Regions from separate parts of the Homo sapiens genome. Here regions 1 and 3 are each linked to region 2. The links come from fine-mapping of genetic effects on gene expression. A gene starts in region 2. Each other region holds a variant in brackets. All regions are shown on one strand. Distances are from middle to middle. Region 1 overlaps NFATC3 (nuclear factor of activated T cells 3). Region 2 holds the start of SLC7A6OS (solute carrier family 7 member 6 opposite strand). Region 3 overlaps NFATC3 (nuclear factor of activated T cells 3).

Evidence for each region. PIP is the estimated chance that this variant, and not a neighbour inherited with it, causes the effect. A credible set is the group of variants that fine-mapping cannot tell apart.
Region 1: its variant is the best candidate, but not a certain one, in a credible set for the expression of SLC7A6OS in NK cells (Gilchrist 2021, PIP 0.54).
Region 3: its variant is the best candidate, but not a certain one, in a credible set for the expression of SLC7A6OS in monocytes after interferon gamma (Fairfax 2014, PIP 0.51).

What each region holds. Positions count from the first base shown.
Region 1 is chr16:68,192,039-68,200,038 of GRCh38, reverse strand. All of the region lies in intron 9 of NFATC3 (nuclear factor of activated T cells 3), which reads right to left. Among named protein-coding and RNA genes, the nearest start is that of MIR6773, 37 kb to the left of the region's middle. The variant T/C (reference allele first, on the strand shown) is at 4,819.
Region 2 is chr16:68,305,357-68,316,513 of GRCh38, reverse strand. It overlaps SLC7A6OS (solute carrier family 7 member 6 opposite strand), which reads left to right and starts at 5,568. Exons shown (of 5, transcript NM_032178.3): 1 at 5,568-5,779; 2 at 5,901-6,179. The coding sequence starts at 5,588. PRMT7 (protein arginine methyltransferase 7) reads right to left here and starts at 5,495. Exons shown (of 19, transcript NM_019023.5): 1 at 5,415-5,495; 2 at 4,338-4,472; 3 at 440-617. The coding sequence starts at 534. It overlaps LOC124903789 (small nucleolar RNA U13), which reads left to right and starts at 3,174; the gene lies at 3,174-3,275. RefSeq lists an enhancer at 5,599-6,563.
Region 3 is chr16:68,099,954-68,107,953 of GRCh38, reverse strand. All of the region lies in intron 1 of NFATC3 (nuclear factor of activated T cells 3), which reads right to left. Among named protein-coding and RNA genes, the nearest start is that of NFATC3, 19 kb to the right of the region's middle. The variant C/A (reference allele first, on the strand shown) is at 3,766.

The sequences.
Region 1 (8,000 bases), 110 kb after region 2:
ACATAAAACAAGAAGAGTAGTTAGAACTCAAAAGGCCCTGAGATGTTCCAAAGAAGCTAGGGAAGAGACACAGACGAATATAATTATCATTAAGAATACCAAAGTGTGAACTCCAGCGAGAAAGAGAATGGAGAGCCTTTAAAACTTCATCTAGGCCGGGCGCAGTGGCTCACACCTGTAATCCCAGCACTTTGGGAGGCTGAGGCAGGCGGATCACAAGGTCAGGAGATCAAGACCATCCTGGCTAACACGGTGAGACCCTGTCTCTACTAAAAATACAAAAAATTAGCCGGGCATGGTGGCGGGTGCCTGTAGTTCCAGCTACTCAGGAGGCTGAGGCAGGAGAATGGCATGAACCCGGGAGGCAGAGCTTGCAGTGAGCTGAGATCGCCACTGCACTCCAGCCTGGGCGACAGAGTGAGACTCCGTCTCAAAAACAAACAAAACAAACCAAAAAACACTTCATCTAATACTGAGAATAATACTTTTTTTTTTTTTTTTAAACAGGGTCTTGGGGCCGGGCGCGGTGGCTCACGCCTGTAATCCCAGCACTTTGGGAGGCAGAGGTGGGCGGATCATGAGGTCAGGAGATCGAGACCATCCTGGCTAACACAGTGAAACCCCGCCTCTACTAAAAAATACAAAAAATTAGCCGGGCGTGGTGGCGGGCGCCTGTAGTCCCAGCTACTCAGGAGGCTGAGGCAGGAGAATGGCGTGAACCCGGGAGGCGGAGCTTGCAGTGAGCCAAGATCGCGCCACTGCACTCCAGCCTGGGCGACAGAGCGAGACTCTGTCTCAAAAAAAATAAAAAATAAAAAAAAAATAAACAGGGTCTTGGTCTGTTGCCCACGCTGCAGTGCAGTGGCGCAATCTCAGCTCACTGTAACCTCCGCCTCCTGGGTTCAAGCAATCCTCCCACTTCAGCCTCCTGAGTAGTTGGGACTATAGGCACACATCACCATGATCAGCTAATTTTTTTTCTTTTTCTTTTTGAGATGGAGTCTCGCTCTGTTGCCAGGCTGGAGTGCAGCAGCGTGATCTTGGCTCACTGCAATCCCCGCCTCCTGGGTTCAAGCGATTCCCCTGCCTCAGACTCCTGAGTAGCTGGGACTACAGGCACGCACCACCATGTCTGGCTAGTTTTTTTGTATTTTAGTAGAGACGGGGTTTCACCATGTTGGCCAGGATGGTCTCGACCTCCTGACCTCATGATCTGCCCGCCTTGGCCTCCCATAGTGCTGGGATTACAGGCGTGAGCCAACACGCCCAGCTATGCTCAGCTAATTTTTAAATTTTTGGTAGAGACAGGGTATATTGCCCAGGCTGGTCTAGAACTCCTGGGCTCAAGCGATCCTCCCATCTTGGCCTCACGAAGTGCTGGGATTACAAGGCATGAACCACTGCACCTGGCCAGAATCTATAATCTTAAGATTACCCTGGTTCCTCTCACAATCAAGGCTCTATGGAGAAAATGGCATTTTCTTTCATGTATTCTTTGTTTGACACCAGTTCTAAAACCTCAACACACTGACTAGAAACTTGATTACAGATTCTAGAAAAACTCCTAGAGTCAGAAAACAGGTTTTAGTCTTTATTCTGCCATAATTCAAGTGTCTTATCCTGGATGAACACCTTAGGCTCTGTGTAAAATTCAGATGTTTTATCCATAAAATGAGAGCTATATTAGAATATTTTCCAGCTCTATAACTACTTTATTTTTGAGACAAGGGTCTCATTCTGTCACCTGGGCTGGAGTGTAGTAGCATGATCACCACTCACTGAAGCCTCGACCTCCTGGGCTCAAGCAATCTTCCCACTTCAGCCTCCCAAGTAGCTGGTATTACAGGCACGTGCTACCCTGCCCAGGTAACTTTTGTAATTTTTCCAGACAGGGTTTTGCCATGTTGTCCAGGCTATTCTCAAACTCCTGGGCTCAAGTGATCTGCCTGCCTGGGCCTCCCAAAGTGGTGGGACTACAAGCGTGAGCCACCATGCTCAGTCTATAACTCCCGAAATTCTGAGCTGAGTTACATTACTATCTTCTCCAGTAAATGTCATTGAATTTATAATAAAAAATTGATGTTAATGTCCACATTTCTAAAAGTAACAGTCAACTAATACATGAATGATGCCTAAGAGATTCCATGTTACTTAAAAACTTCAAAAATTAAAGAAAATGTGTTTTGATCTTTGATTTGGTTAAAAGAGGATATATAAATTTGAATATAAAACAGAATTAACAAAAGTTATTAGGATAAGTATCTTTAAGTAGTATAGCAAAAATTTTTTTAAATTACCGTGTCCTGTGGTTGTAGAGTGGAAATTACTTTGGACTTAACAGTTAACATAATATGAAAAAGTTAAAACAAATTGAGCTTCGGCTAACTACAAAGTTCATTTTAGTCACTTTCAATCCTTTCTGGTATGTTCTATGACTCACTTAAAATACTCAGAGACAGGGTCTTGCTATGTTGTCCACGCTAGCCTCAAACTAGGCTCAAGTGATCTTCCTGCCTTAGCCTTCCTCAGTAACTGGGATTACAGGCACACACCACCACGCCTGGCTCTATGACTTTTAAAGTTAACTATTAGCAGGGCATGATGGCATGTGCCTGTGGTCCCAGTTACTCAGCAGGCTGAAGCAGGAGGAATGCTTCAGCCCAGGAAGTTGAGGATGCAGTGAGCTGTGTTCACAGCACTGCACTCCAGCCTGGGTGACAGAGTGAGATGCCATCTTCAAGAATAATAAAATGAAATAAAGTAAAATAAAATAAAATATAATAAAGCTAACCAGAAAGGGGACATTTGGCCAGATATGATGGCTCCCAGAACTTTGAGAGGCCAAGGTGGGAGAATTGCTTGAGGCCATGAGTTCTAGACCAGCCTGGGCAGTTTAGCAAGATTTCATCTCTACAAAAAATAAAAAAAAATTAAAAACGAGATATTCCAGTGCTATGGAGTTCAAGGTCTATGGGTTTTTATTTATTTATTTATTTATTTATTTTCTTGAGATGGACTTTCACTCTTGTTGCCCAGGCTGGATTGCAATGGCGCAATCTCGGCTCACCGCAACCTCAGCCTCCCAGGTTCAAGCGACTCTCCTGCCTCAGCCTCCCAAGTAGCTGGGATTACAGGGATGCGCCACCACACCAGGCTAATTTTGTATTTTTGGTAGAGACGGGGTTTCTCCATGTTGGTCAGGCTGGTGGAGAACTCCTGACCTCAGGTGATCTGCCCACCTCGGCCTCCCAAAGTGCTGAGATACAGGAGTGAGCCACTGCGCCCAGCCATTTTAATTTTCATTTTATGGATTTACATTAAAAGTTGTTTTTTTTTCTTTTTTGAGATGGAGTCTCTCACTCTGTCACCCAGGCTGGAGCGCAGTGGTGCGATCTCAGCTCACTGCAACCTCCACCTCCCGGGTTCAAGCAATTCTCCCTGCCTCAGCCTCCAGAATAGCTGGGATTACAAGCTCCCACCACCACGCCCAGCTAATTTGAATTTACATTAAAAGTTTGCAGAACTTTTTTTTCTAGGCATCTAAAAATTCTACCTTCAAAGGCAAATCCAAATATCATAATAAATGAGTCAAATTAAAAATATCAAAAATTCATTTTAGGCTGGGCATGGTGGCTCATGCCTGTAATCCCAGCACTTTGGGAGGCTGAGGCAGGCAGATCACCTGAGGTCAGGAGTTCGAGACCAGCCTGGCCAACATGGCGAAACCCCGTCTCTACTAAAAAATACAAAAATTAGCTGGGCGTGGTGGTACACGCCTGTAGTCCCAGCTACTCGGGGGGCTGAGGAAGGAGAACCTCTTGAACCTGGTAGGTAGAGGTTGCAGTGAGCTGTGATTGCGCCACTGCACTCCAGCCTGGGTGATAGAGACTCCATATCAATAAATAAAAATAAAAATAAATTCATTTTGGAGCTTAAATTAAGCATCAAAAATTCAATTTGCAAAAATTATACAGCCAATAATCTAAGGTTTTCAGAAGTGCGTTTTAACAAAAATTGGTCAGGTGTGGTGGCACATGCCTGTAGTCCCAGCTACTCAGGAGGCTGAAGTGGGAGGATTGATCCCTTTAGCCAAGGAAATCGAGGCTGCAGTGAGCCAAGATTGCACTACTGCACTTCAGACCGGATGACAGGGTGAGACTACCATCACAAAAAAATAAAAAGAGTGCGTTTCAGTTTTTTCTGTCCTTTTATTTATTTTATTTTATTTTTTGAGACGGAGTCTTGCACTGTTGCCCAGGCTGGAGTGTAGTGGCCCAATCTCGGCTCACTGCAAGCTCCGCCTCTTGGGTTCACGCCATTCTCCTGCCTCAGCCTCCCAAGTAGCTGGGACTACAGGCGACCACCACCACGCCCGGCTAGTTTTTTGTACTTTTAGTAGAGACGGGGTTTCACCGTGTTAGCCAGGATGATCTCTATCTCCTGACCTCGTGATCCGCCCACCTCAGCCTCCCAAAGTGCTGGGATTACAGGCATGAGCCACTGCGCCCAGCCTGTCCATTTTTTTTTCAATTTTAGAGACAGGGTCTCACTATATTGGCAAGACTGGACTCGAACTCCTGAGTCCAGGTGATCCTTCCATCTCACATTCCCAAGTGGCCAGGACTACAGGTGCACACCATTGTGTACTGCTCTTCCCCCTCTGTAATTACTGCTTGGCAGCACTGAGCTTCTATTAAGTCCCCTGAGGGGTGGCAATGAGCAAATGTGATAGCTAGTCTCTGGGGGGCTACAATCTAGGAACATTCTTTCTTGCTTCTTTTTTGAGACAGAGTATCGTTCTTGTCGCCCAAGCTGGAG[T/C]ACAATGGCGCGATCTCAGCTCACTGCAACCTCCGCCTCCTAGGTTCAAGCAATTCTCTTGTCTCAGCCTCCCAAGTAGCTGGGATTACAGGCACCCACCACCACGCTGGCTTTTTTTTTTTGTATTTGTAGTAGAGACAGGGTTTCACCATGTTGACCAGACTGGTCTCCAACTCCTGACCTTAGGTGATCCACCCACCTCAGCCTCCCAAAGTGCTGAGTTTATAGGCATGAGCCACGGCACCTGGCTCCTTTCTTGCTTGTATGCCCTACTATAATAAAGGGAGCAAAAATAAAATTGCTTTTACAGTTGCCCTCACAGACCTCACCTTTCCAGATCTTCTGTTTTTGCAACAAATCTTAATATATTCAAATAATGAAATACATTTTCCCAAAATCTTTCTAGAGATCTGATTTGTTGCCTATCCGACCCTCTACCCCCAAATCTCTCAACCTGTGGTAAATTAGAAAGAGCAGGTTCTAGCTTTGGGCTCTTTTTAGAAGGAAAAAATATCTTCATTGGTTAAAAAAAATGAGCTGAAGTGCTCTTAAAGTCTCAATAAATCTCCTATCTTCAGTTATATCACAAATGAGTGACTCAAGGTCTCAGTCCTTGTTTCAGGGTAAAAAGCAATGTGAAGAGTTAGTCTAAAACTGCTAAAAGAAACAGGCAACATTTTTAAAGCCAATATTTGCGTAAGCCTTTATTTCAAATCTGTTTTGCATAAAAGTAGCAGCCTGCTCTCTACCTTTTGGTTTCATCATTTAGTAGGGAGTGACACTTATGCCAGCTGTGCACAGAGAACAGCAGCAAAATGCTTAAATACCAGAGTGCTCAAGTACACCAAACAGTGTAACAGATCAGATGCAGTTGTGAACATGGGTTAACGCAGTGAAATTGTGCACATGCATTTCTGGAGAATATTCTCCAGGAATTAGAAAAACCTTGAGGGATTCCGTTTAGTAGAGAGTTCTGTTCTAACCACCATGGCCTGCTGTTTCTGAGAGGCAGCTGTAGTGCCACAAGAAAAAGACTGGATTGAACCAGTCTCAGTTCTGCTGCTTACTAGTTGTGTGATTTTTCAAAAGTCCAACTCTATAAATGTCACTATCTACCTCAGAGTTTGAGGAATGGTAACGATTAGATTAGATAATAAATAGAAAAATGCTATGCAATTTTAGGTGTTGCTCTAGTTTACACATATACCTTCTGTTTACACACAAATGACCTGGCATGTCCCCTCATGGCTTTAAAACCATCCTGTACCATACCAATCACCCCCATCCCCCACCCCGGACCCCATACCTCACCCCACCACAGACATATCCTTCCCTGACAAACATACCCTTCTTCTCTATTTCTGCTGTGTTATCTGACTTGCCTCTGATGTTCATTTACTGAAAACATACTCAGGTGGCCCTTGAACAACACAGCTTTGAGCTGTCTGGGTCCACTTATACACAGCTTTTTTCAACCAAACATGGATCTAAAAAAGAATATTCTCGAATGTGAAATCTGCATATGTGGAGGGCTTTTTAATTTTTTTTAGAGACAGGGTCTCACTTTCCTGCTACCCAGGCTGGAGTGCAATAGTATGCGATCAGCTCACTGCAGCCTAGAACTCCTGGACTCAAGCGATCCTCCCACTTCAGTCTTCCTAGTAGCTAGGACTACAGGCACACACCACCACACCCAGCTAATTTTTGTAGGGTTTTTTGGTAGAAATGAGGTCTCATTATGTTGCCCAGGCTGGTCTCAAACTCCTAGTCTCAAGTAATCCTCCTACCTTGGCCTCCCAAAGCACTGAGACCACAGCTGCTTTTCTTACATGTGGGTTCCACAGGGTGACTGTGAAACTTGAGCATGCATGATTTGGTTGTACACAGGCGGTCCTAAAATCAATCCCCTGAGTACACTGAGAAATGATTATGTCCATACCATACAACCCCCCCATACCAAAATCCATGAATGCGCAAGTCCCTTATATAAAACAGTGTACTATTTGCACATAATCTATCCACATACCCCCTTTAAATCATATCTACATTATTTATAATACCAAATACAATGTAAATGCTAATGGGAACAGTTGTAATATTATATTGTTTAGGGAATAAGACAAGAAAAAAAAAAGTCTGTTTGTACACGTTCAATACAGATGCAACCATCCATTTTCTTCCCCCTAGATATTTTCAATCCACAGATGGTTGAATCCAAGGTGTGGAACCCATGCATACAGAAAGCCAACTGTACTCATCCTCCAAAACTTGGCTCAAATGTCACCTACTCACAGAAGACTTGCTGAATCCTTCCTGTGAAATCTGTTACATATCTCTGCTGATCTTTTTTTTAAATTTGAGGCAGGGTCTCACTCTGTCACCCAAGCTGGAGTGCAATGGCATGATCACAGCTCACTGCAGCCTCAACCTCTCCAGCTCAGGTGATCCTCCCACCTCAGCCTCCTGGCTAGCTAGGACTACAGGGCCACATCACTATGCCTGGCTAATTTTTTGTATTTTGTTTTGTAGACATGGGGTTCTGCCATGTTGCTCAGGCTGGTCTTGAAGTTCTGGGCTCAAGAGATCTACCCGCCTCAGCCTTCCAAAGTGCTGGGATTATAGGTGTGAGCCACTGAGCCTGGCCGAGAATTCTATCTTAATACATCCTTCGCATTCCCAGCATCTAGCTTCATCTTGCAAAAGGACAGCATTCAGCAATATTTATGGAACTAATGGCCTTGAATTCCATTCTCTAGACACTGTGATCTCACTATATATTCTGGAAGAAAAGATCTCGTATTCAGCAACAGATATTAGTGGTAAAACAGATGCTAAGGCATGGATTTTCATATCTACCCTCAAAGTTCTCTCTCTCTCTCTCTCTCTCTATATATATATATACACATACATATATATATATACACACATACATATATATATACACATACATATATATATACACATACATATATATATATATATATATATATTTTTTTTTTTTTTTTTTTTTCCCGAGACGGAGTCTTGCTCTGCCGCCCAGGCTGGAGTGCAATGGCGCGATCTTAGCTCCCTGCAACTGCCACCTCCCGGGTTCAAGTGATTCTCCTGTCTCAGCCTCCCGAGTAGCTGGGATTATAGTCACACACCACCATGCCTGGCTAATTTTTTGTATTTTTAGTAGA
Region 2 (11,157 bases):
GATTAGAGGCGTGAGCCACTGCGCCTGGCCAACAACTCACATACTTTTAAATATTTCTTCTAAGGGAAAAAAAAAACCATTTTCATTTTTTTCATTCAAAAGAATTTAACCATATGATGAACATGTCACCATTTCAGTAAGGCAAGTAAATGATTCAACTTCATCAACACTACTGAGGCTTGGGTTTTCTTTGCTCCGTTAAACAGATGCTGAGGCTCTGCTAAGGCTGCTACATAATGTCTGACTCTCCAAACAGGCATGATTTTGCCTAACTGCTACATATACCTACCTGGCTGAGCAGACCTGCTCAGGACCAACACCAGCCCTCATCATAAGCACTGGGTGACAGCCTAGCCCACGCTCAGACTGGAGCCCAAGGCATCTGCTTTGAGATCAAGTGCCCCACCCAGCTGCAGCCTGCTGTAAACCAACCCAGTACCTTGCAATCTCCTGGTGGTAATCATAGTGTTCATCCTCCTCCAGCCACTCCACAGACCCCGTGGTCGGATTGGCCCGACTGCAGAAGATCTTCATGGTGCCCACTAGCTCCCCAGTTTTAGCACAGAAAAGCAGCCTTGCCAGTTGAGTTCTTGTGGACAAGTCTGACTGTCAGAAATCTATTAACATCAGAAGGAAACAGGAGGTATATAAACAAACGAACAGAAAAAAAATCTATTAACAGCACAATGCCCCAAAATGTGGAGGGGGGAAGGGGAGACAAAAGCGGGGAAAAAAATCAAGAAACTGACAAAAATGTCAAAGCCACTGATAGTATTTGTTAATCGATATTGTAAATGTTTCCAGCAGGAGTTACTTGGTTTTATATTCAGCATATAACATTAAAAAACTACAACAGATTCATACAGATGTCTGGAAACTTCAGCAGGCTTCGGTGCTTCCAAAAGGTTCAAATGAGCCTCACAAGTTCATCTAGGTGCAGCCCTCAAGGCTAGGAGAAGAGATGGGGTACTGTTAAAGAAGTGCCACCAATACTGCCTTCGTATGCTGAACCCTTAGCTTAAGGAAAAATATGAAGATAGAGCAAGTCAAACCAGGAAAACTTTCATCTAAACAATAAATTACAGTCACACATAAACCTAAAAATGGATAATCCCAGGAATATAATGATGAGCAAAAACAGCAAATCACACAACACATGCAATACGATTCCATTTCTATGAAATTTATAGCTATGCAAAATGGAGTGATACGTTCTTCAGGGATCACACTAAAAAGCATAGCAAGGAATCAGGATAGTTAACTCCTAAAAGAGAAGGGAAAGAGATGGGATCAAGGAGGGGTACGCAGTGGACTTCAAAAGTATTGTTCTTTTTCTTAAATTGGGTGGTGGGAACATAAATGTTCACGATATTAGCATTCTTTTTCTTTTTTTTTTTTTTTAAAAGATGGGGTCTCGTTATGTTGCCCAGGCTGGACTCAAACTCCTGGGCTCAAGCATTCTTCCTGCCTCAGCCTCTCCAGTAGTTGGGACTACAAGTGAGTGCCCCACACCCAGCTAATACTAGCATTCCTTATGCTTCATTATTTTTTATAGTGATTACTTCTTATCTATTCAAATTTTAATTTTAAAAGCAATTTTTAAAAACCCTCCATCATCTAAAAAAATTTTGCTTCAAACAAGTAAAATGTCACCAGATTCACGTCTTGTATGGCCTGTCTCCCCAAAGAGATCTATTTCTGGGAGGGAGAGAAACACCACCGCTCAAAGTCTAAAGGCACTCCTCAGCAGGTGTGGGCTCTCCCAATACCCATCCCTCTTACCATGCAGAAAGCAATAGGTGTTCTACACTGCCCTTCCTTTCTTGTTAAACATTGGTGCATCTTCAGGAAAACTTAGAAAGAATGCCTACTCCACATATCCCTAAACATTCCTATGGCATTTTATTGGCCAGAGTTTTTTTTCTTTTGAAGTTATCTAGAGTAAGTAAACATGGAATTCTTACACAAATAGATGAGAAACAGGCTGGGCACGGTGGCTCACACCTGTAATCCCAGCACTTTGGGAGGCCAAGGCAGGCGGATCACCTGAGGTCAGGAGTTCAAGACCAGCCTTGCCAACATGGCGAAACCCTCGTCTCTACTAAAAATACAAAAATTAGCCAGACATGGTGGCGCACGTCTGTATTCCCAGCTACTCAGGAGGCTGAGGCAGGAGAATCACTTGAATCCAGGAGGCGGAGGTTGCAGTGAGCTGAGACCGCACCACTGCACTCCAGCCTGGGCAACAGAGTAAGACTCCGTCACCAAAACAAACAAACAAAAAGCAAATAGATTAGAAACAATCTTCCCTGAACAAACTCAGGCCGGCAGTCAGGTTCAAAGTAGACAATTTGTCCAGGTAAAACTCTACTACTAAAATCTCAGCATACCTATCCCCTAGTCTAATGATTTTCAAACTTTCTGATAACCCCAGTAAGAAATATACTTTAAAATGAGACTCAATACACATACCTGCATGTACGCATACAACTAAATGTTCCACAAAACAATACTGACTTCCTACGAACAAGGCCCTCTGATATGCTCTATTTCATTTTTATTGTTTTTAAGAGATGGGATCTCCCTGCTGTCCAGGTTGGATCACAGTGGCTATTCACAGGCATGATCATTACACTCTACAGCCTTAAACTCCTGGACTCAAGCGATCCTCCTACGTCAGCCTCCCAAGTAGCTAGACTACCGGCATGCACCACGGCACCCAGCTGCACTTTTACTTGCTGGTCAGGACCCATCAATGGGTTGCAACCAGCAGTTTAACAACATTGCTATAATCCACTTTATCTCATGTACTAACATTTATTTTACAGACAGAATATCTAGAACTGTCAGAATCTGTAATGTGCATTAGAAAACTGTGTCCAACAAATGTTGGAGTAGAGAAAGAAATGGCCATATCTGACTGAATGTTCAAGGAAGGCTTAAAAGGTGGATTCAGCTGAGGCAGGAGGAGAAGGAGGGGGTTGTGGACGGAGAAGGCATTTCATCCAATTAGAAAGGCTTAGACAATCATGCACATTATATCAATCAGTTTAGTGAAGTAAAACTGGACCAGGTGTCAAACATATCAATAGGATCCATATGGTAGAGTCCTGAAATACTAATCCTGTGGTCCATGTGGAATCAATTCTGAAGTCACTTCAAGGTTAAGAGTCATCGTTTTGTAGTTCATAAGCGTGATGACTGGGTGTTCATGTGCCTGTGTCAGACGTGCCTCCCTCAAACCTTTACTACATTGGCACGTTACCCATTTGAACTGGAGGAAAAAAAAAACTTATAGTGAAGAACTTTAATCCATAGGATTCCTTTCTTGTCTGTGATGTTGCTGAGTCTAAAACCAGGACCACAGTGTCTTTTCAAAACCTGGAACAGCCCAGGCACGGTGACTCACGCCTATAATCCCAGCACTTTGGGAGACCAAAGCAGGTGGATCACCTGAGGTCAGGAGTTCGAGACCAGCCTGGCCAACATGGCGAAACCCCGTCTCTACTAAAAATACAAAAAATTAGCCAGCATGGTGGCAGGTGCCTGTAATCCCTGCTACTTGGGAGGCTGAGGCAGGAGAATTGCTTGAACCTGGGAGGCAGAGGTTGCAGTGAGCCAAGATCGCGCCACTGCACTCCAGCCTGGGCAACAGAGCAAGACTGTATCTCAAACAAACAAACAAACCTGGAACTATGTCTTGTGTTAACAATTTTATGAAGGCATGAACCTCTTCTGGTGGGCACTACACACCTTCTCTGGCTGAATGCCCTCATCCATTATTATTTGTTCTCTCCCAGAAGCAGTCTACACTACAGATTCAGGAGATATTCTCTGAACCCCTCCTCATTCTCCAAGAGTTGTAAACTTGCATGGCCATTTACAAGGAGGAAATAGAAACCACCATGCCAAGCCCTAATTGTATTAGCCGTCAGACTGCAGAGCAGATGGTCCACTACATTCATTCAAAATGTATTTGCTAGGCGGTGGTGGCTCACACCTGTGATCCCAGCACTGTGAGGGGCCGAGACGCAAGGATATCGAGTCTGGGAGTTCCAGACCAGCCTGCGCAACATAGTGAGACCCCGTTCTCTACAAAAAATTTTTAAAAAAATTAGCCGGGCGCGGTGGCCTGTGCCTGTAGTCCCAGTTACTCCCAGCTACTCGGGAGGCTGAGGTAGGGGAATCACTTGAGCCCGGGAGGCAGAGGTTGCAGTGAGCAGAGATGGCGCCACTGAACTCCAGCCTGGGTGACAGAGTGAGACCCTGTCTTAAAAAAAAAAATATATATATATATATATATATATAAATATACATATATTAAAATTAAAAATTACCCGAGTGTAGTGGCGCGTGCCTGTAGTCCCAGCTACTCGGTAGGCCGAGGTGAGGATCGCTTGAGCCCAGGAGGTCAAGGCTGCAGTGCGCCTCGATCACACCACTGCACTCAGCCTAGGCAGCAGAGTGAGACTCTGTCTCGAAAAAATAAAATAACAAAATTTATTAAATACCTTCTATGTGCCAGGCACTATATTAGGGACTGGAGCCACCACCACAAGCTAGAGAAGACCCTTGCCCTCCAAGAGCTTAGACTCTAATGAGAGAGTAATACAAATTACAGACTACATGAATGCAAGAAATACACAGAGCGTTGTAGAAAGAGAAAACCAAGGTTACAGAAGGACTCTGAGGAAACTAGCATTTGAGATCTACAAGACAGACCGGGATAAAAGTTGGGGAAGAGTTTTTACAGGTCAGGAATCCTTACCCCAACTTTCCCAAGAAAAGGCCCTAAGGTAGAAAGAACTAGGTTGCATAAGCAAAATGTGCCAAAAGCCTGAGCGACCGAAGCACTTTTGCAGAAGCCCCCCGCTCCTCATCTCCTATCACATCTTCTGCTCAATCAAGCTGGGCCTTGTCGACTTCGGAAAGGCGTTTGGATTTTGTTCTAAAAGCACTGGGAGCCACTCAAGAGTTTTAAGCAGAAGCGTATCTACACTAGGCTTACGCTTTTACAGGACCACTCTGGTTGGCGTGTAGTGAATACACGACTCTCCAATTACTCAGAACAGTGAGTGGCAAAGACAACAGGTCTGGCAATCAGAGAACTCGTGGCCCAGTTAGGGGTGCGATGGTTGGAGCTACTGCGGTCTCTGTGGCTGAGGGGAGGCGCCAGGCACGAGTACTGCGACAGAGCCCCGCGAGTGGCAGGCACCCGGCTGCACTGCAGAGCCGGGGCCAGCCTAGAACCCCGCTCTCCTGCAGGCCCGGGTGTCCCGAGCTGCCCCACGCGGAGGAGTCCAAGTAGGCCCACGCTAGGCTCCTCTGCCGAAACCCTGGTGCCAAGGACACCATGCTCGCTGCACACAGAACCCCAAAGCGACCCCACCTTCCCAGCATACCCAGCGCCTCACCCGCCGCGGGAAACCCTCCGCTCGCCTCCGCTGCTACCACTTTTACCGCGGCCAGCACGCGGGGCGGGACCTCGCAGCGTCGAGGAGCGTGCTGGGGGGCGGGTCCTAAAGCAGAACTGGAAAGCTATCCCATCACACCCCGCGAGCTCCCACAGTGCTCAGCGGCAGCCACTATGGAGGCCGCCAGGACCGCTGTACTCCGGGTGAAGCGGAAGCGCAGTGCGGAGCCGGCGGAGGCTCTTGTGCTCGCTTGTAAACGCCTCCGGAGCGACGCGGTCGAGTCAGCGGCACAGAAGACGTCGGAGGGTTTGGAGAGAGCGGCGGAGAATAATGTCTTCCACTTGGTGGCCACTGTGTGCTCCCAGGTATTGGGCGTGGTGCAGCTGGTGTGGAGGGCATCTTCGGGTGCAGCCGGTACGAAACCCGATCCCTGACCCGCTCGCGAACTCCTGCTTACGCTGGCCTCCGTCCCCTGTTGCCCCCTAGGAGGAACCAGTCCAGCCTCTCCTGCGGGAAGTTCTGCGCCCGTCACGGGACAGCCAGCAGCGTGTCCGCCGTAATCTCCGCGCCTCGGCTCGGGAGGTCCGGCAGGAGGGCCGCTACCGGGTGCTTTCCAGCCGCCGATCCTTGGGGACCACCTCGAGCGGCCAGGAGTCCGAGTACACGCCGGGGAACCCAGAAGCCGCCGGGAACTCGGGCTTTCAGTTGTTAGACCTTGTCCACGAGGAGGGAGAACCTGAAGCCGCCTCTGCAGGCTCCTGCAAAGTGAGTATGCCCCTGAAGGTGGTCGCTGGGCTTCTCAGGATGGTAATGCAAGAAGACTGGGCCCAGTCGCAGCACAGTTTCATCTTAAGGGGATGGATGATCCATCCGGCGTGACGGCCTCATTTTACAGATTTGGTTGTTCATCCAACATGTGTTTACTACGTGCCTACGATATGCCAGGTATTTTTTTAGATTCTGTGGATACAGCAGTGAGGACCTAACATGCAGGTAGACAGAAACAGTAAACAAGTCTATTCAGTGTCAGATGATGATAAGGGATGTAAGGAGGCGGGGAGACAAAGCAGGAAGAGTGGTGCCACTTCAGTGAGAGTGTCACTGAGGAAATGACATTTGAGTGAAGACTTGCAGAAGGTGAATGGCAGGGTATTCCACATATCGAGAGGACTTCTAGGCAGAGAACCTGAAAGTAAAGAGGCCCTTAAGCCGTTTCTTTGCTCCTTGCAAGGTGCCTGGAGCCCGGTGAGCTAGAGGAGAGCAGTAAGGAATTTGAGGGGAGGATGCCTGCTAGGTACTTGCAAGGACATTGCCTTTCACCCTGACTGAGATGGGGATCACTGGAGCAAAATAGAGATAGAGCAGGTAGGAAAATTGATCAAAGAGAGGTTAAAGGAATAGTCCTGGATAGCATATCAAGTTTGAGGTAGATTTAGGTCTAGAATGCAAGTTTTCTCACATTTAATCCAGTGCTTTTCTTTATATTACATTTGCTAACTTCATTTGCAATCACTTCCAAAAAAAGTCTACTACATGCAGCAAAACTACAGAAATGGAAAATTCTCCTTGAGGCTGGGCACAGTAGCTGACGCCTAATCCTAGCACGTAGGGAGGCCCAGGCGGGAGGATCACTTGAGCCTGGGGAGGTCAAGGCTACAGTGAGCCATGATTGTGCGGCAGTGGCATTTCAGCCTAGGTGACAGAGTGAGACCCTGTCTCAAAAAAAAATAAAATACTCCCTGTAATCCCAGCGCTTTGGGAGGCTGAGGCAGGAGGGTCGCTTGAGGCCAGCCTGGGCAACAAAGCAAGACCTTGTCACTACAAAAAGGAAGAGGAAATTAGCTGGGCATTGTGGCACGCGCTTGTAGTCCTAGCTACTGGGGAGGCTGGGGCAGGAGGATCACTTAAACTCAGGAATTAGAGATTGCAGTGAGCTGTGATCAAGTCACTGCCCTCTGGTTTGAGCAACAGAGCAAGATACTGTCTCTAAAAAAAAAACCAGAAAATTCTCAACATAAAGTGTGCCCTCTCTTTTTTTTTTTTTTTTTGAGTCAGAGTCTCACTCTGTTGCCCAGGCTAGAGTGCATTGGCATGATGCTGGCTCACTGCAACCTCCAACTCCCGGGTTCAAGCAATTCTCCTACCTCAGCCTCCCAAATAGCTGGGATTACAAGCGTGAGCCACCACACCCAGCTAATTTTTGTATTTTTAGTAGAGACGGGGTTTCGCTATGTTGGCCAGTCTGGTTTTGAACTCCTGGCCTCAGTGATCCGCCCGCCTCAACCTCCCAAAGTGCTGGGATTACAGGCATGAGCCGCTGCGCCTAGCCAATATGCCCTCTCTTGATAAACATTTTTATAGAACTCATTTTAATTATTTTTGCAACTTAAAACAATTATAATTCAAAATGAATCCACAAGCAACAAGCAAATGGTACTAGTGTAATTGTTTATTGTTGTTTTTGTTTTGTTTGAGATGGAGTCTCGCCCTTGTCGCCCAGGCTGTAGTGCAGTGGCGCGATCTCGGCTCACCGCAGCCTCTGCCTCCTGGATTCAAGCAGTTCTCATGCCTCAGCCTCGCGAGTAGCTGGGATTACAGGCATGAGCCACCACACCCGGCTAATTTTGTATTTTTAGTAGAGACGGGGTTTCGCCACCTTGGCCAGGCTGGTCTTGAACTCCTGACCTCAGGTGATCCACCCGCATCGGCCTCCCAAAGTGCTGGGATTACAGGCGTGAGCCACCACGTCCAGCTGGTGCTAGTGTAAGTGGATAGCAATTTGTGTATGATGTCCATAGCCACATCTTTCACCAAAACATTCCAGACTAATGCATGACTTACAAAATGTGTAAAGTAAACCAATGCTCCGTGGAATTGAATCAAGTAAATAGTTCACTAGGCCGGGCACAGTGGCTCATGCCTGTAATCCCAGCACTTTGGGAGGCTGAGGCGGGTGGATCACTTGAGGTCAGGAGTTCAAGACCAGCCTGGCCAATATGGCAAAACCCCATTTCTACTAAAAATACAAAAATTAGCCGGGCGTGGTGGCGGGCGCCTGTAATCCCATCTACTCGGGAGGTTGAGGCAGGAGAATCGCCTGAACGCGGGAGGCAGAGGTTGCAGTGAGCCAAGATTGCACCACTGCACTCCAGCCTGGGCGAGAAGAGCAAAACTCCATCTCAAAAAACAAGAGTAAATAGCTAATTTAATTTTATAAAGAAAACTAGGAGATAAACTGATGACCGATATGAACAGAGATTTTTCCAGTAAAGCAATACCGACTCTAAACATACCAAAAATGTTTGCACAGAGTAATTATAGGGGAAAAATGAATTTAAGCTTAAAGCATGCTTGAGGTTTTATGCATACTAGACTAGCAGGAAAAAAGTAGTTGATAGCAATGCTGGCAAGGCAATGATTAAAAGCGTACACAATTGTAGGAATAAAATTGATGCAAGCCTTTTGGAAAACAGGATGGCATGGGAGCCATGTTTTACATATGTAAATTTATTATTGTTTGGATCTAAAGCCATGCATAATCTAGGAAAATTTTAAAATTAAAAATTTCTAAGGAAATTTAAAAATGACAGCATTTCTATGTTATGTTACAATGAATTTCTCCTTAAATTGACACAATTTACATTTTAAGCAAATAAATTCCTATTAGATAAATTTAATAGGAAATTTAAAAATTAAAGGACTTCAGTTCCTTTTAACTAGTAGTCTCACCTCCAAGATTTATCCTAGGGAGATAATTCAGCAGAAGCAAACAGCTAAGCTAAGCTATGATATTAACAAATGCTACTGTTGATTGACTAAGTAATTATGTCAAATAGCGTGCTAGGTACTTGTTATATTTTCTTTTAATTTAACTCATTTAATCCTCACAAAAACCTTATGAGTGAGATACTTTTCAAATGCAGGAAATGGCACATTCATTGCAACACTATACATGGAGGTTAAAAATTATATCCAAGAGGTTGACACATACAACTGTCTGGACCCTTAGAACTGATAACCATGAAAACTGATTGTGGGCGAAAATATATATGTTTAACAGTACAAAATGCTGTGTGTAGTGAAACTGAAAATATGGGCTGGGCTCAGTAGTTCACACCTGTAATCCCAATACTTTGGGAGGCCAAGAAAGGAGCACTTGAGCCCGGGAGTTAAAGACTGCAGTGAGCCATGATCATACTGCTGCCCTCCAGCCTGGGCGACAGAGCAAGACCCTGATTCTGAGTGAATGAATGAATGAATGAATGAATGAATGAATACACATGGACATAGACTTCAAAATAATTTTCAGCAAGGGTACGGTGGGTTACTCCTATAATCCTAGCACTTTGGGAGGCTAAGGCAGGAGGATTGCTTGAGGCCTGAAGTTCAAGACCATCCTGAACAACATAGCAAGACTCCATCTCTACAGAAATAATAATAATTATTTTTCTTCTAGCTAGGAGGAGTGGTGCACACCTTTAGTCCCAGCTACTCAGGAGGTTGAAACAGAAAGATCATCTAAGGCTAGGAGTTCAAGGCCAGTTTGGGCAACATAATGAAAACCGCCTCTTTAAGCAATAATAGGCCGGGCGCGGTGGCTCATGCCTGTGATGCCAGCACTTTGGGAGGCCAAGGTGGGTGGATCATGAGGTCAGGAGTTTGAGACCAGCCTGACCAACATAGTGAAACCCGGTCTCTACTAAAAATACAAAAATTGGCCAGGCATGGTGGTGCGTACCTGTAATCCCAGCTACTCAGGAGGCTGAGGCAGGAGAATCACTTGAACCCGGGAGGCAGAGGTTGCAGTGAGCTGAGATCACGCCATTGCACTCAAGCCTGGGTGACAAGAGCGAAACTCCATCTCAAAAAAGAAAAAAAATAATTTATGCTCATTATGGGAAATTTGAAAAAATATAGCAAAGGAGGAAAATCTCCCATTTTACCATCAACCCAAAAGTAGGTAGAATAGAACTGGTTTATTTCCTTCTGAGTACAAAATTCTGTATCTGTCATTTTTCTGTATTGCTAGTCTTGTACCTTTTTTTGAGACAGCGTCTCGCTCTGTTGCCCAGGCTGGAGTGCAGTGGCATGATCACGGCTCGGTGCAGCCTCCACCTGGGCTCATGTGATCCTCCTGCCTCAGCCTCTCAAGTAGCTGGAGCCACAGGCCTGCGCTACCACACCCAGCTAATTTTTGTATTTTTTGTAGAGACGGTTTTGCCATGTTGCCCAGGCTGGTCTCAAACTCCTGGGCTCAAACATTCCTCCGACCTTGGCTTCCCAAAGTGCTGTGATTACAGGCATGAGCCACTGTGCCCAGCAATCTTATATTTTAATGGCTGCATAATTTGACTGAGTGGAGGGACTTAGGGGTTGGAGCCAGAACTTTTGTCATAGGTAACTTTAAGTTTGCTCAAGGTTCTGCAGAAAAACTGGCATCTCTAGCTTCTTTTTGACTTTGGAGCAAGGAAGAATTCCTTAGTCTGTAAATTATAGCATTGGTCTCCCCTTGTCTGCCTTGGCCATGGGATCTTCCCCATTTTCCTGCGTGGTGTCTGCTTGGAGCTGTGCAGTGTCCTGTGATGAACCTATCAAGAGGAGCCATCTGCAGCATGTCCCTGTGGTTAATAAACTGACCCATGCTACCAGGCCCCTGGATAATACAGCCTGTCAGCACTGGAGCACATCTTACCTGGGCCATTTCTATTCTGGGGCATTGCATTTCAAACTGTTCTTTCCAGTA
Region 3 (8,000 bases), 210 kb after region 2:
AAGAAACTTAAATAAATTTACAAAAAAAAAAAAAATAAACCACCCCATTAAAAAGTAGGCAAAGGACATGAACAGACATTTCTCAAAAGAAGACATTTATGCAGCCCAACAAACATAAAAAAAGCTCAACATCACTGATGATCAGAGAAATGCAAATCAAAACCACAATGAGATACCATCTCAAACCAGTCAGAAAGGAAATTATTATTATTATTATTATTATATTTTTTTGATACAGTGTCTCACTCTGTCGCCTAGGCTGGAGTGCAGTGGCATGATCTCGGCTCACTGCAACCTCTGTTTCCTGGGTTCAAGTGATTCTCCTGTCTCAGCCTCCCAAGTAGCTGGGACTACAGGCATGCACCACAATGCCCAGCTAATTTTATTATTTTTAGTAGAGATGACGTTTCATCATGTTGGCCAGGCTGGTCTTGAACTCCTGACCTCAACTGATCCGCCCGCCCCGGCCCCTCAAAGTGCTGGGATTACAGGCGTAAGCCACCACACCCGGCCCAGAATGGCAGTCATTAAAAAGTCAAGAAACAACAGATGTTGGCGAGGCTGAGATAGAAAGGCTTTTATACTCTTGGTAGGGATGTAAATTAGTTCAAACATTGTGGAAGACAGTGTAGCAATTATTCTCCCAAAGACCTAGAACCAAAAATATCATTTTACCTAGCAATCCCATTACTGGGTATATACCCAAAGGAATATAAATCATTCTATTATAAAGATACATGCATGTGTATGTTTACTGCAGCACTATTCACAATAGCAAAGACATAGAATCAACCCAAATGCCCACCAATGACAGACAAGATAAAGAAAATGTAGTACACATACACCATGGAATACTGTGCAGCCATAAAAAGAATGAGATCATGGATGGAGCTGGAAGCCATTATCCTCAGCAAACTAATGCAGGAACAGAAAACCAAACACCACATGTTCTCACTTATAAACAGTAGGTGAACAATGAGAACACATGGACACAGGGAGGGGAACAACACACACTGGGGCCTGTCTGGGGGTGGGGGTCACGAGAGAGGGAGAGCATCAGGAAAAATACCTAATGCATGCTGGGCTTAACACTTAGGTAATGGCTTGACAGGTGTGGCAAACTACCATGGCACACATTTTGCTATGTAACAAACTTCCATATCCTGCACATGTATCCAAGAACTTAAAATTAAATTAAATTAAAAAAAAAACAACAAAAAAAAAAGGCGTCCGGGTACGGTGGCTCACGTCTGTAATCCCAGCTCTTTGGGAGGCTGAGGTGGACAGATCACCTGAGGTCAGAAGTTCAAGACCAGCCCAGCCAACATGGTGAAACCCCATCTCTACTAAAAATACAAAAAAGAGGCTGGGTGTGGTGGCTCATGCCTGTAATCCCTGCACTTTGGGAGGCCGAGGCGGGCAGATCACAAGGTCAGGAGTTTGAGACCAGCCTGGACAACAGGGAGAAACCCCGTCTCTACTAAACATACAAAAATTAGCCAGGCGTGATGGTGCACACCTGTATTCTCAGCTAGTCGGGAGGCTGAGGCAGGTGAATCACTTGAGCCCAGGAGGTGGAGGTGCAGTGAGCCAAGATCACACCATTGCACTCTAACCTGGGCAACTAGAGTGAAACTCCATCTCGAAAAAAAAAAAAGAAAAAGAAAAGAAAAAAGAAAACACTACTTTAGCACAACGTAAGTGGATTTTGTTAGAATGTATTACAACTGGTGTTTGCAAAAATATATGTAAGAATACTATGATAATAAGAATACTATGAACAGGATCGGGTGCGGCGGCTCACACCTATAATCCCAGCACTCTGGGAGGCCGAAGCAGGTGGATCACTTGAGGTCAAGAGTTCAAGACCAGCCTGGCCAACATGGTGAAACCCCATTTATACTAAAATATACAAAAGTTAGCCTGGCGTGGTGGTAATCCCAGCTACTAGGGAGGCTGAGGCAGGAGAATCGCCTGAACCCAGGAAGCGGAGGCTGCAGTGAGCCAAGATTGCTCCACTGCACTCTAGTCTGAGCAACAGAGTGAGACTCTGTCTCAAAAAAAAAGAAGAAGAATACTATGAACAATCGTACACCAACAAATTAGACAATCTAGAAGGAATGAGCAAACTCCTAGATATACAGAGATTACCAAAACTGACTCAGAAGAAAAAGAAAATCTCAGACCTCTAACAAGTAAAGAGATTGAATCATAGTCAAAATTCTCCCAGGAACAGATGGCTTCACTGGTCAGTTCTAATGAACACTTAGACAAGAATTAACAGCACTACTTCTCACATTCTTCCAAAAAATAGAGGGAATGCTTCCTAACACATTCTATGAGGCCAGTATTTTCCTGATACCAAAGCAAGACACTACAGACCAATATCCCGTATGAATATAAACACAAAAATCCTCAACAAAATATACACTAGCAAACTGAATCCAAGAGCACATTAAAAAAGACCAAATGTGATTTATCCCAGGAATGCAAGGGTGGTTCAACATGTGAAAATCAACTGATATAATATACCATATTAATAGAGTGAAGAAAAAAAATCCACACAATCAGGGGCCGGGTGTACTGGTTCATGCCTGTACTTTGGGAGGCTGAGGCACGTGGATCACTTGAGGTCAGGAGTTCGAGACCAGCCTGGCAAACATTGTGAAACCCTGTCTCTACTAAAAATACAAAACTTAGCCAGGCATGGTGGCAGGCGCCTGTAATCCCACCTACTTGGGAGGCTGAGGCAGGAGAATCATTTGACCCTGGGAGGTGAAGACTGCAGTAAGCCAAGATCATACCAGTGTACTCCAGCCTGGGTGACAAAGTGAGACTCCATCTCAAAAAAAAAAAAAAAAACCCACACAGTCACCTCAACTGACAGAAAAAGCATTTGACAGAATTCAACATCTTTTTAAGACTGAAACAAACAAACAAAAACCTCAGCAAACTAGGAATAGAAGTAAACTTCCTTAACATGATCAAGAGCATTTGTGAGGCCAGGTGCGGTGGCTCACGCCTGTAATCCCAGCATTTTGGGAGGCCAAGAGGGGCGGATCATGAGGTCAGGAGATCAAGACCATCCTGGCTAACATGGTGAAGCCCTGTCTCTACTAAAAATACAAAAAATTAGCTGAGCGTGGTGGTGGGCACCTGTAATCCCAGCTACTTGGGAGGCTGAGGCAGGAGAATGGCGTGATGAACCCAGGAGGCGGAGCTTGCAGTGAGCAGAGATCGCGCCACTGCACTCCAGCCTGGGCGACAGAGCCAGACTCCATTTCAAAAAAAAAAAAAAAACCATTTGTGAAAAGCCCACAGCTAACATCATAGTGGTGTAAAACAAAAGCCTTCCCCCAAGATAAGAAGCAAGATAAGGATGCATGCTTTCACCACTACTATTCAACATTGTACTGGGAGTCCTACCCAGGGCAATCAAGGAATTAAAAGACATCCAAATTGGAAAGGAAGAAGTAAAACTATTTCTACTTGCAGAAGACATGATTCTATATAAAGTAAAACCCATAAGTTCTACAAAAAACTACAGCTAATAAATGAATTCATTAAAGGTGCAGGGTAAAACATCAACACATAAAATTCTGTTGTTTCTATATACAAGCAATAAACAATCTGAAAAGGAAATTAAGAAAATTCTATTTACAGTAACCTCCAAAAGAAATAATACTCAGGAATAAATTTAACCAAGGACATGAAAAACTTACACACTAAAAATTACAAAACATTGCTGAAATAAATTAAAGAAGA[C/A]CTAAATAAGTGGTAAGACTTCTTGTGTACATGGATTGAAAAACAATGTTAACATGCAATACTCTCCAAAGTGATGTACAATGCAATCCCTACCAAAATTTCACGGGCTTTTCTAGAGAAATGGAAAAGCCAATCCTCAAATTTATACGGAAATGCAAGGGGCCCAGAATATTCTCTGAACAGCCAAAATAACACTGAAAAAGAAAACAAAGTAGGATTAACACTCCAAAACTTACTACAAAGGCACAGCAATCAAAACAGTGTGGTGCTAGCATAAGAAGAGATGTATTAATCAATGGAATGGAAATGAGAGTTCAGAAATAAACCCGAATATCTATGGCCAATTGATTTTTTACAAGGGTGCTAAGACTTTAAATGGAAAAAGAATAGTTCCTTCAACAAATGGTACTGGGAAAACTGGATTATCACATGCAAAAGAATGAAGTTGAACCCCTTCCTCATACCATATACAAAAATTAACTCAAAAAGGATCAACAACCTAAATATAAGAGCTAAAAGCATAAAACTCTTAGAAGCAAAAATAGGAGTACACTGTCAAGACTTCAGATTTGGCGATGGATTCTTAATAGTAAAAGCACAAGCAACAAAAGAACTCAATTAATACAACTTGGTAAAATTAAAAACTTTTGTGCACCAAAGGGCACCATCAAGAAAGTGAGGCCAAGCCCAGTGGCTCATGCCTGTAATCCCAACCCTTTGGGAGGCTGAGGCAGGCAGATGACTTGAGCCCAGGAATTTGAGACCAACCTGGGCAACGTGGTGAAATCTCATCTCCACAAAATAATACAAAACTTAGCTGGGCATGGTGGCATGCACCTGTAGTCCCAGCTACTTGGAAGGCTGAGGTGGGAAGCTAACTTGAGCCAAGGAGGTCAAGGCTGCCTGCCATGAGCCAACATCACACACCATGGCATTCCAGCCTGGGCAACAGAGTGAGACCTTGTCTCAGAAGAAAATAATAATAATAATAATAAAATAAAAAAAAAAGAAGAAAAAAGAAAAGTGAAAAGACAACCTACAGAATGGGAAAAAATATCTGTAAATCTTAGATCTGATAAGGCTTTAGTATCCAGAATATATAGAGTTTTTATAACTGAACAGCAAAAAGTCAAACAGCTGAATTAAAAAATGGACAAAGCACATGAATAGGCATTTCTCCAAAGAAGATATACAAATGACCAACATGCACATGAAAAGATGTTCAACATCACTGGTCATTAGGTAATGCAAATAAAAACCACAGAGAGATACCATTTCACACTCCCAGGATGGCTTTAATTTGAAAAAATAAACAAAAAGAGAAAACAAGTGTTAGTGTGGATACAGATAAATAAGAACCCTCATATATTACTAGTGGCAATGTAAAGTGATACAGCTGAGTTGCTGTAGAAAAGAGTTTGATGGTGCCTCAAAAATTTACATAGAGAATTACCATATGACAAGCAATTACATTTGTAGGTAGTCAGGTACTGCTTGATGATGTTTTGGTCAATGACAGACCACGTATGTGAAAATGGTCTCCTGAGATTACAATGGAACTGAAAAAATCAGAACACAAAGGACAAAGAGAAGAACCTAAAAGACTCAGAGGAGGGTAACAGGTTACACATGAAGAATCAAGAATCAGAATGGCATCAGACTTTTCAACAACAATGGAATAAAATGGAGAAAATGGAGAGCAATGCCTTCAAATTTATGAGAGAAAATGATATCTAACTTAGAATTCTACAACCAGCCAAAATTAAGTGTGAGGGGAGAATGAAGACTTTTTTTTTTTTTTTTTTTTTTTTTTTCCTGAGATGGAGTCTCACACTGTCACCAGGGCTGGAGTGCAGTAGTGCAATCTCGGCTCACTGCAACCTCTGCCTCCTGGGTTCAAGCGATTCTCCTGCCACAGTCTCCCAAGTAGCTGGGATTACAGCCACGCACCACCACACCCAGCTAATTTTTTTGTATTTTTAGTAGAGACGGGGTTTCACCATGTTGGCCAGGCTAGTCTCTAACTCCTAAGCTTGTGATTCACCTGCCTCAGCCTCCCAAAGTGCTGGGATTACAGGCGTGAGCCACTGCGCCTGGTGAAGACCTTTAAATATATAAGGTCACAAAAATTTACCTCCTATTACCATCAGTAAGCTACTGAAGGAAGTACTCCACCAAAATGAGTTGCAAAGAAACAAATGACAACACAATAACAGAAATGCAAAGAACTCAAGATGACAGAGAAGTGAGGTCTCACAATGACAGATGTACAACATGCTAGGTATCCACTAATCCAGATTAGTTTAGAAGGCTCTGAGAGAAAGGAAAGTCTCCAAGAAAATAAAATTGACAGACGAATTGATGTGTCAAAAATGCTGAGACTCAGGCACCTAAAAGATACTTTGGGACCGGGTGCGGTGGGTCATGCCTGTAATCCCAGCACTTTGGGAGGCAGAGGCGGGCGGATCATGAGGTCAGGGGATCAAGACCATCCTGGATAATATGGTGAAACCCCATCTCTATCAAAAATACAAAAAATTAGCCAGGCGTGGTGGCAGGCGCCTGTAGTCCCAGCTACTTGGGAGGCTGAGACAAGAGAATGGCGTGAACCCGGGAGGCGGAGCTTGCAGTGAGCCGAGATCGCGCCACTGCACTCCAGCCTGGGCAACAGAGCGAGACTCCGTCTCAAAAAAAAAAACAAAAAAAAAAACCTAAAACTATAAAACTTCCAAAAGAAAACCTAGCAGCCAGGCACAGTAGCTCACTCCTGTAATCCCAACACTTTGGGAGGCCAAGGAGGAAGGATCACTTGAGCCCTACAGTTTGAGACAAGCCTGGCCAATGCAGTGAAACCATATCTCTACGAAAAATTTAAAAATTGGCGGGGCATGGTGGTGCACACCTGTGGTTCCAGCTATTACAGAGGCTCAGGCAGGAGGAATAGCTTGAGCCCAGGAGGTTGATGCTGCAGCGAGCCATAATCATGCCACTGCACTCCATCCTGGGCAACACGAGCAAGACTGTGTCTCAAAAAAAAGAAAAGAAAAGAAAACCGAGGAGAAAATCTTTGTGAGCATGGGTTAGGCAAAGATTTCTTAGCTGTAACACCAAAAGTGCAATCCATGAAAGAAAAAATTGGTAAGGCAAACTTCATCAAAATGTAAAACTTCTACAAAAGATACTATTAATAGAATTAAAAAACAAATCACAGATTGAGAGAAACTCTCTGCAAAGCATATATTTGATAGACTTGTTTCACACACACACACACACACACACACCCCACACACACACACACACAGAACTCTCAAAATTCAACAATAAGAAAACAACCCAATCTAAAAAGGGGCAAAGACTTAGACACTAGACCAAAAATAATATACGGATGGCAAAAATCACATAAAACAATGGTCAACAGTATTAGTCATGAGAAGAATATAATTAAAACCACAATGAGGTATCACTACACACCCATCAGAATGATTAAAAAAAAAAGGTGTTAATACCAAATGCTGCCCAAGATGCAGAGAAACTGAGTAACTCATACACCTGCTGGTGGGAATGAAAACATTTGGCAGGTTTGGTTTTTTTTTTTGTTTGTTTTGTTTTGTTTTTGAAACAGAGCCTTGCTCTGTTGCTCAGGCTGGAGTACAGCGGCACAATCTTGGCACACTGCAACCTCCGCCTCCAGGGTTCAAGCGATTTCTCATGCCTCAGCCTTCCAAATAGCTGGGACTACAGCCATGCATCATCATGCCTGACTAATTTTTGTATTTTTAGTAGAGATGGGGTTTCACCATGTTGCCCAGGCTGGTCTTGAACCCCTGGCCTCAAGTGATCTGCCTACCTCGGCCTCCCAAAGTGCTGGGATTACAGGTGTGAGCCACCACACCCTGGCAGTTTCTTATAAAACTAAATTCACAGATTGGAGGTCAGGAGGCATTTGTACTTCTGGGTATTTATACCAGAAAAAAAAAGAAACAACACATATCCACATACAAATCTGTACACAAATGTTCATAGCAATTTTCATAATAGCCAATAACTGGAAATAACCCGAATGTCCTTCAATGGGTAAACAATTAAACTGTAGTACATCCATATGATGGAACACTACTCAGCAATAAAACAGAACAAACTATTAATATACTCGACAACTTGGAAGGATCGCCAGGCAATGAGTGAAGAAAAAGTCAACCTCAAATGGTCACATAGGGCCTGGCACGGTGGCTCAC